3 separate regions of the Homo sapiens genome follow, and all the other regions are linked to region 1. The links come from fine-mapping of genetic effects on gene expression. A gene starts in region 1. Each other region holds a variant in brackets. All regions are shown on one strand. Distances are between the middles of the regions. Region 1 holds the start of TMEM215 (transmembrane protein 215). Region 2 has its middle 100 kb from the start of TMEM215. Region 3 overlaps LOC105376017 (a long non-coding RNA gene).

Region 1 (2,758 bases):
ATTTCTAACAGTGTGAAGGCTCTCCAAGCAGAGCAATTTGCTTCCACGGGGAGCTGGGCTTAGTCATATTCTATCAATCCAGCCACCTTTGTAGGCAGAGATTAGACGATGGTCTCGTGGTCCCACCTGCCTTGTATCTGATTGATATAACAACAGTATCTGTCATACGGGCTGTTCTGCTTGTAGGAGCAAACGATGATACTGTCCTGGGGCACAAAGAAGATGCTATCCTCAGGCTCAGGGCACTCAGATCTGTCCCTTGCTGAGCACTTGACGTCCAAGGCACTGTAGGTGAGGGAACTGCCCGAGGGGCAGTAGCCGTCCAGGTATCTGGACGTCTCCTCCTGATGCCCATTCTGGACGAGGCTCTGGCATTCTCCTTCCTCCGTGGGTGTGGGGCTGTTGATGGAGCTGGCCACGGACACCTCACCCTGGCTTTGTGGGGGAGGCTTCCCCCTGAGGCCCGCCTTCTTAGCCAGCTCATCTGAGCTCCCCTTGCCGGATTCTAGGTCTGAAGGGGTCCTCAGCAGCTCTACCACCTCCTTGTCTTTGGGTTTCCGGAAGCAGGGCAATTTGCGGACCCACAGCAGCTCGTTCTCTGGCCACTTGGTGCATCCCTCGGTTTTCCTGGCCAGGGCAATGGCTGCGATGCCTGGTAGGCAGATGGCTGGCCCGATGGCCAGGAGGGGGATGTTTCCCAAAGTCTCCCCTTTCATCCCAGAGACGGTGAACATGAAACCAAAGACGAGGAAGACACTGACCAGGGCCACCACCAGCCCAGTCCTCGGGTTAATGTCATCAGGCCGCATGTTTCACTCCATCCAGGTTGGGGGCTGCTTGCTGACCAGGGAGCAGCGTTCCTCTATTCTGTCAGAGATGAAACCACAGTGCGTTAAAAAAAAATCCAAGTCAAGCTCCCACCCATCAACTCTTGTCTTTCTCTTGCCCTTTGTCTCCGACTTGCTTCTTGACTTTCAGTCTTGATCTCTGTCTCTGTATCTCTCTTGCAATCTCTCTATCTCTCTCTCTGCGTTTCTCTTGCAATCTCTCCCTGTTTCTATTTCTACTCTTTCTCTCCGTCCCCTCTCCCTCCCTCCCTTTCTTGTGCCCTCCCTCTCTTCCTCTCACTATTGCAACCTCCGTCTCTCTCTCATATCAACACGCTCCGGCTGGGGTCAACGAGGTACCTGAGGTTTCCTGCCCTCTCCAGGAAGTAGGGAAAGAAGCCAGGCTGTCTCCTCAGAAGCCCCCACAGCAGCTGCCCCCTCGGCTCGCTCCCTTGGTTCTGGGAGGAAAGCCTGGTTTCCCCCACGGACTCTGCATCGGGGAGGTGGAACCTGGGAGAGCGGCTCTCCCAGCAGTGCCCGTCGGTCCCGGTGCTGTGCAAGCGGAGCCCGGCGCCAGCTCAGCGCGCAGAGCGCGGGGCGCGGGAGGAGGAGGGAGCACTGAGTCTGGGAAAGAGGGGACGCGGCGCGAGCCTGGCCTTGTTACATCACTGTCAGAGCAGGCTCAGAAACGCAGACAGACGCGCGGGGGCGCGAGGGGGTCAGCCCCAGAGGGAGGCCACCCGGCGGCAGGCGCTGCCCGGGGTCTCGTCGGGGCTGCTGGGAGCGGCCGGGGTTTGTGCCGCCGCCGTTCCGGAGGCTGAGCAGGGCGACCTGACCCGCTTCCGTGCCCGGGAAGGGTCTGGGGCGCGAGGCTGCCAGTGGCCGGAGTCGGAAACCAGGGTCGGTTTGCCCACGGGGCAGCCGTTGCAATATCCGAGCTCGGGCTCCCAGTCCGGGATCCGAGGAGTTAGGTGCCAGCTGGAGATGTCCCTCCGGGACCCGCACCCTTCTCCAGTTACAAATCCGGGTGACTGACGGCAGGCCCAGGGGCTCCCCGACCGCCCTTCTCTCAACCCCTCGACTCGGGGCGCGGGGGGGTGTGTGTCCCTCGGGGAGCCGGTGCCCGAGGACTGCTTTGGTCCCGGCTCTGGGCGGTGGCGGCGCGCGAAAGCGCTCTTGCAGCGGAGCGACTGCGCCGCGGGAGCGCACAGAACCAGCGCCCAGGCGGAGTGGGTTAGTGGTGAGGGGTGGGTGCCAGGCTAGTCCGGGCCTTGGGGGAGTCCCCGGAGTCCCCGTGGCTTTCCAGCTCCAGGCTCGGGAGAGGGTGACCTTGGAGCCGGGATTTCACTTCTACAGCGCTGTGGTGCCGGGGGGACAGGGAGAAGGGCTCCCTGGCCCCCAGTTCACGAGGAGAAGGGGCCTTGACCGGTCAGGACCACCACCCTACGACGCCGCTCAGCTCTGGGCGATTCTCTCCTCCCTTGCTGAAGCAGGCATTGAGAGCCTGCGTTCCTCCCGCTCTGGTAGGCAGGGGCAGATGGATTCCTCTGGCCCCGGGGGGCAAGACTGGCTTTGGCTGTGATTCTTCAACAGGGCTGCCCATTTAGGATAGAGGAGGGCGGTGGAGAACAGGTTGATGAGCGGTACATGCTTTCATGTCAAGACACTGATTTACTGGAAAGAATTTTCACATCCAGGCCTTCCCCAGTTAAACTAGCTGTATATTCCTGGGCAAGTGACTTAACCTCTCTGAGAATCAGTCGTCCTATCTGTAAAATGAGATTAATACCAAATATATGAGGAAACATTGTGAGGATTAAATAAACGTAAAGTTCCTAGCACAATGCTTGGTACATAGTCTGTGTACAAAAATTACACACACATGCACACACGTACACATGTATATGTATATATATTTGTCATCATAATTA
Region 2 (2,758 bases), 100 kb before region 1:
CATGGTCATAGGTGGGAGGAGTTTTATCTTGGAATCTGTAATAAGAGAGCAAATAATCTGTCTCCTTGTTTTACCCCTCCAGGAATCAACCCCATGATTCAGGGTTGTTTCTCTTTAATCAATCATACGCCCTTGGTTTTGAGTATTTTAATCTGGATGAGGGATGTTGTTTTAAGATTAATGGAAAATAAATATGGTTCATGAGCTATATTTTTCTTGCTGCCATGTACTCTCTAATGAGGTAAATTACTTCTCCTTATTCCAGTGGAAAGATCAAGTTCAATGTTTAGTACACCAAACAGCCCTAGGGTATTTATCGTGTATTATATATTTTTTCCTTTTGCTCTACAGCTGCAACTTCATGGATCTGTGCTGAAGATACCCATAGATCCTGGGGTTCCCAGAGCAACAATGCATAAACTAGAAAGAATCAGCTGGAAGGGATGGAATGTACCTTGGTTGTCTGATCCCTTGTTTTATTGCTATTCCCGGTGGTGTTGGTCCACACAGGTGTGACTTCTCTTATTGCCCATATCAGAACTGGAAAGAGGTAAGCTGCCCTGGAAGCCTAAACACCATGCTACCAGCAGAAGGTAAGGAAGCGGAGTGTCTGTTCAGCAGGTCTGAAGGTGACTCTAAGCTCTGTGAAGGCAGAGCTTGCTGTACCCACAGTGCCTAGCACCATTCCACAGGCACCCAATAAGTGCTGTTGAGTTTCTAAAGGTGGTTTATTGTTTCATGGCCAAACTTGTCTCCCTTCTTCAAGGGTCTTGGCTGAGTCTCTACATAGAAGCTCTAGTGATCTCTGCATTACAGCATTCAGAGTTTTTGCCTGGACAACCAGAGATGGTGAAGCTCTGCAGGCCTGGCTGGGTTTTAGAGTCAGGACTGGCTTTGGGAGTACAGGGAAGCCTGCAGACAGCATCAGAGAAGCCAGAGACTAGACCCAAGCTGATCTGAACATCAATCTGAAGGGCTGGGACAGAGGCAAACTCAGGTTTGAAGCACAGAGATGGAACAAGTAGACTTAGAAGATAGGGCAGGTGGTCACCTTGGATAGACTCCAAAGGGCTTGACTGAGACAGGGCTTTTGTGAGGCAAATGCATCCTCATTCAGGATGCTGAGCCTCTGAGAACAGAGTAGCTTTGGGTAGCAGCTTTTTCTACACACACCTTGATGCAGAGCCCCATGTTCCCTACCCTGCCCCCTTTAAGAGCTTGCTTTGTTTCCTGCCTAAGGAAGAGGAACTCTGGAGGTCCTCCTAGAACCCAGATAAAACTCAGGCTTTCATCTTCCCAGCAGGGAAGCCAGTTCTAGAATTGGCTGTGGCTTTGGCAGAGACCATCAGTACTATTGCCTCAATCATCCAGCTCCCCACGACTTCCCGCAGGCCTG[A/G]GATTGAAGCCAAGACCCATAGGCCCAGCCCTCTAGAAAGCAGGTTTGTCATCATTACCGGCCCTAGGAATTCACAAGCAGATCCTCCCAGCTTTTCCTCTTGGTGACTTCTGAGGGCATCACAGATGAAGCCTTTGTGCCAGATGGTCTCACGTTAGGCCCTGTGAAAGGAGCACTCACAGAGCCGTTGCACCTTTAAAGAATTGCCCATTTTCGATACCTGGCATATCACTTGAATAGAAGAAGTTTAACAGAATTAACAGTCTGTGTCTGGATGCAAGATGGTTTTAACCTACAATATATTTAGGGTGCTGCCCGTGCACCCCAGGGCTCCTTGAGGCAATTAAAACCGTGCCCTTGGCAATGTGGCTGACTTCAGTGGCTCTTTTGCCAGAGTTACAGCAGTTTCTCATCATGTCTGGAAGAGATTAGATTTGTGTGGTGTGGAGAGAGGACGCTTCTGACAACATGATAGGTCATGTTGGTGGAATTGTGGCAGGACCCAGAGTGCTCCCAGAAACTTCATTTTCTTCCAAACAAATGTAAATGGGGTTCAATTTACTGGTCAAATTCAGCAACTAGAAGAAATTACATAAACTGTGAAGCCACAAGGAGCAATTTTACTAAAAGTTATGTTGGCCTACATGGAGAAATTTAGGCCATGGAAGACTCAGGACCATTTTAAGCTTTATGTAGACTCTTTTGGAGGCATCATCACTTAGATCAAACGAATTAAAATGCACCCACATCTTGAATTAAATGTAAAATTTTCCATAAAAATGTTGAAGGGATTTTTATATTTTTGCCTTTGAAGTTATTTGCCTATACATGATTATTCAATTTACAATTGTCTGTGTCTACTCTCCCGAGTAGGCATAAATCAATCAGTGTGCCTACTCAGGAATTCTTGCAAAACAAGAGAATCTAATCTACAAGTGTTCTCACCTGTAATAAATTTATAAATGAATAATAAATTTAACAATGACATTGACATAATGTTACATTTTTCAGGTAGTTAATTAAATGGCTATTAATTTCAATTTTGTTATCTGTATCTTGGAACCTTTTTTTTTTTTTTCCATAGGCCCCTGAAAAGCAATGGACCCTAGCCACTGAGTTTCGTGTGCCTCACAGATAAAATAGCTCTCAGGGAATTTGACTCTGATGTTTAGCTCAGGAATAAAAGATTTAAAGGGTACAGGATTACTGTTTTCAAGAAGTAGAAGGTCTGTATGTGAAAGAGGGATAAGACAATTCTATGGCACTCCATGGGACTGGAGCAGGTGGCTCTCCAGGGCAACATAACAAAGAGGCTGTCACAGGAGGTGTGTGACCTGGAAGCATCCCCTCCCAGTGTTTTAT
Region 3 (2,758 bases), 60 kb after region 1:
AGTGGGTCACTCTCTACTCCTCTTCTACCTGCTTCAACCATAGCATCTTTGCTGTTGCTTTTTAAAAAGTCTGTTTTGCATACCGAGGTTCTATATTAGGTGTGGTTTGAAGAAAGTGATTTGTCGTTTGCTGCTAAATCAGAATATTTAGAAACCACAAACTTAAGCTCTCTCAGTTTGTAAACAGTCTCAGAAATGTTATGTAATTTTTCTCATAGTCACACAGCTATTAATAGTTGGTAGAGGCCAGCACAGTGGCTCACGCCTGTAATCCCAGCACTCTGGGAGTCTGAGGCAGGCGGATCATGAGGTCAAGAGATCGAGACCATCCTGGCCAACATGGCAAAACCCAGTCTCTACTAAAAGTACAAAAATTTGGTGGGCATGGTGGTGCGCGCCTGTTGTCCCAGCTACTCGGGAGGCTGAGAATCAAGTGATTCTCCTATCACTTGAACCTGGGAAGTGGAGGTTGCAGTGAGCTGAGATTGTGCCACTGCACTCCAGCCTGGCAACAGACTGTCTCAAAAAAAAAAAAAGAAAAAAAATTGTTGGTAGAAAAATTGGGATGCTGCTGTCAGAGGCATTTTGCCAACCAACATATTTTGAAGCTTGATTGTGTATAAGGTCCTGTACAAGGCACTGCATAGAAATACAAAGATGACTATCTCACAGCACTCATAGTAATTTAGGGAAGATATGGAAAACATACACGAAAGAATTCATAGGAAAAAATGTGTGGCAGTCTGTATTTTCTGAAAATGTCTACAGCAAAATTTCTGTAGAACTTTGCCATTCTTCATTAAGAAGTGGAATCTATTTCCCCTGCCGTTGAACCTGGGCAGGCTTGGGAAGCTCCAGCCAAATAAATGCAGCAGAACTGGTAAGGCTAAATTAAAAGAGGCAATACAGTTCTCACACGGCACGCATTCTCTCTCTCTTAAGATGTTCAGCCTCAGAACGTAGCCACCTTGCTGTGAGAAAGCCCAACCATCTTGTACAGCGAGACCACATGGAGAGGCGCATGTGGAAAGGAACGGAGGCTACAAGCCGATAGCCAGCATCGACTGCCAGGCACGGAGAGTGAGTCTTCAGATGAATCCAGCCTCAGCCTAGAGTCTTTTGTCTCAGGCCCCAGACACTGTGGAGCAGGGACAAGCCATCCCCACTGTGTCCCACC[C/T]GCATTCCTGATCCACAGAATCTATGAGCACAATAAATAGTTGCTTTATGGCAGAGAAACTGGAACAGAGTGATTCTATCTGGGTGTTCATGGACAATGTAATGAACTGTGGGAGCAAGTGCTGTGAACTGCCTGGAATGTTTTCCTCCCACCTGCTTTCTCGTGTAACAATCCAGCCTCCTTGGCCTGGCTAATGATAATACTCTATTCCCTTGGGCTCTGTGGTTAGGGCAGGGATAAGCACATGACCCAAACAGGGCTCATCAGAGTCTTTCCTGGGATGATAAATGAACAATGACAGAGAAGGGGGAGGGTGTCTTATACTTCTGAGCCTGTTGGGCTGGGGGAGATAATGTAAAATGAAAGAGTTAGAGAGAAAATTCTAGTTGCATTAATCCCTAGGGTTCCCGCAGCCATCCCTCGGAACATGTAGGCCACCCCAGTATTCTTTCCAACCACTGAAACTAATACATTTTCTTTTACATACGTTAGATTTCTGTCCCTTTCCTCTAAGAACTCTGCCTGATTTAAAGGCTTTGTGGAGAATATGGCATTTGAACAAGGCCTTGGATGATGGTAGGGTATTGACATTCTGACATGGGGAAGGGGTTTTGGAAGGAGGGGACCGTGTCCACGGAGGCAGAGCAGTGCAGCAGCTGAAAGCATTAACTCCAAATGCCAGCTCCACTTCTTACTTAGAGAACTTGGACTTTACCTCATCAGACTGCAGTTTTCTCAACTGTTAAGTAAAATAGCATCTAAGACATGGAGTTATTGTTAGGATTAAGAGACACCCATAACCCATATTAGCTCTGAGTGTGGTGCATGTTGTTTAGTTGGTGGCTACCGTGCAGGACACAGCGTGTGGATGAGGAGCAGCACATGGCAGGAGTCTGGCCGAGAAAAAGCTGATTCAAGAAATGGAGTTGGATTGTGGGGACCTGGAATGCTCGACTGTGTTAGATGCAGTGAGGAGCATGGGCGTTTTATTAGCAGAAATGAACACAGATGTGAATACATGTGCCTCCCATATAGAAATCGAGTTTTGATAACAGAAATTCCATTTCAGTGCAGCATCAGCAGTATAGCCTTGCTAGTATACATAGTATATTTCAATGTACTTGTGAGTGAGGTTTGTTCCAAAAGTACATGGACCCAGATGACAGATGTTCTCCATTCTCTGCACGTGGAAGCACAGGCTCTGCTTTTACTCCGTGCAGATGTGACCTGGATGCATATGTCAGTTTCTCTTTGATTACCGTGAAGGACTGACTCATACGGAAGCATTGATGAGCAAATGTACACTCTATTAGAGGGTTTCATAGTGACAGTGTCAGTGCTGTATCAGATCTCAGCTCTACTTTTACTGTCTTGTGCTCTGCCCCTGCCCGTGTGGCTTCTCACAATCAGCATCTGCAACTCGTCTTCAGAGGGCTGCCCTCAGGCTATTGGAGCCCCCTTTCCTCTATAAAAGGGAGCGGGAAGTGCTTAGGAATTTATTCCCCTCCCCTCCTCATCGTTGGCCCATGCTAGTGTGACTATATGAAAGCCCAGCTCTCTTACCTCTGGTTGGGACAACTC

Evidence for each region.
Region 2: its variant is fine-mapped to the expression of TMEM215 in putamen (GTEx, PIP above 0.99). The same link has a PIP of 0.9 or more in anterior cingulate cortex, caudate, prefrontal cortex and substantia nigra.
Region 3: its variant is fine-mapped to the expression of TMEM215 in tibial nerve (GTEx, PIP above 0.99).

The regions. Positions count from the first base shown.
Region 1 is chr9:32,782,235-32,784,992 of GRCh38, reverse strand. It overlaps TMEM215 (transmembrane protein 215), which reads right to left and starts at 1,453. Exons shown (of 2, transcript NM_212558.3): 1 at 1,188-1,453; 2 at 1-867. The coding sequence starts at 809. The coding sequence ends at 102. LOC105376017 (a long non-coding RNA gene) reads left to right here and starts at 2,087. Exons shown (of 7, transcript XR_929559.2): 1 at 2,087-2,350.
Region 2 is chr9:32,884,840-32,887,597 of GRCh38, reverse strand. No RefSeq gene overlaps it. Among named protein-coding and RNA genes, the nearest start is that of TMEM215, 100 kb to the right of the region's middle. The variant A/G (reference allele first, on the strand shown) is at 1,397.
Region 3 is chr9:32,722,606-32,725,363 of GRCh38, reverse strand. The region is part of intron 4 of LOC105376017 (a long non-coding RNA gene); the gene reads left to right. Among named protein-coding and RNA genes, the nearest start is that of TMEM215, 60 kb to the left of the region's middle. The variant C/T (reference allele first, on the strand shown) is at 1,178.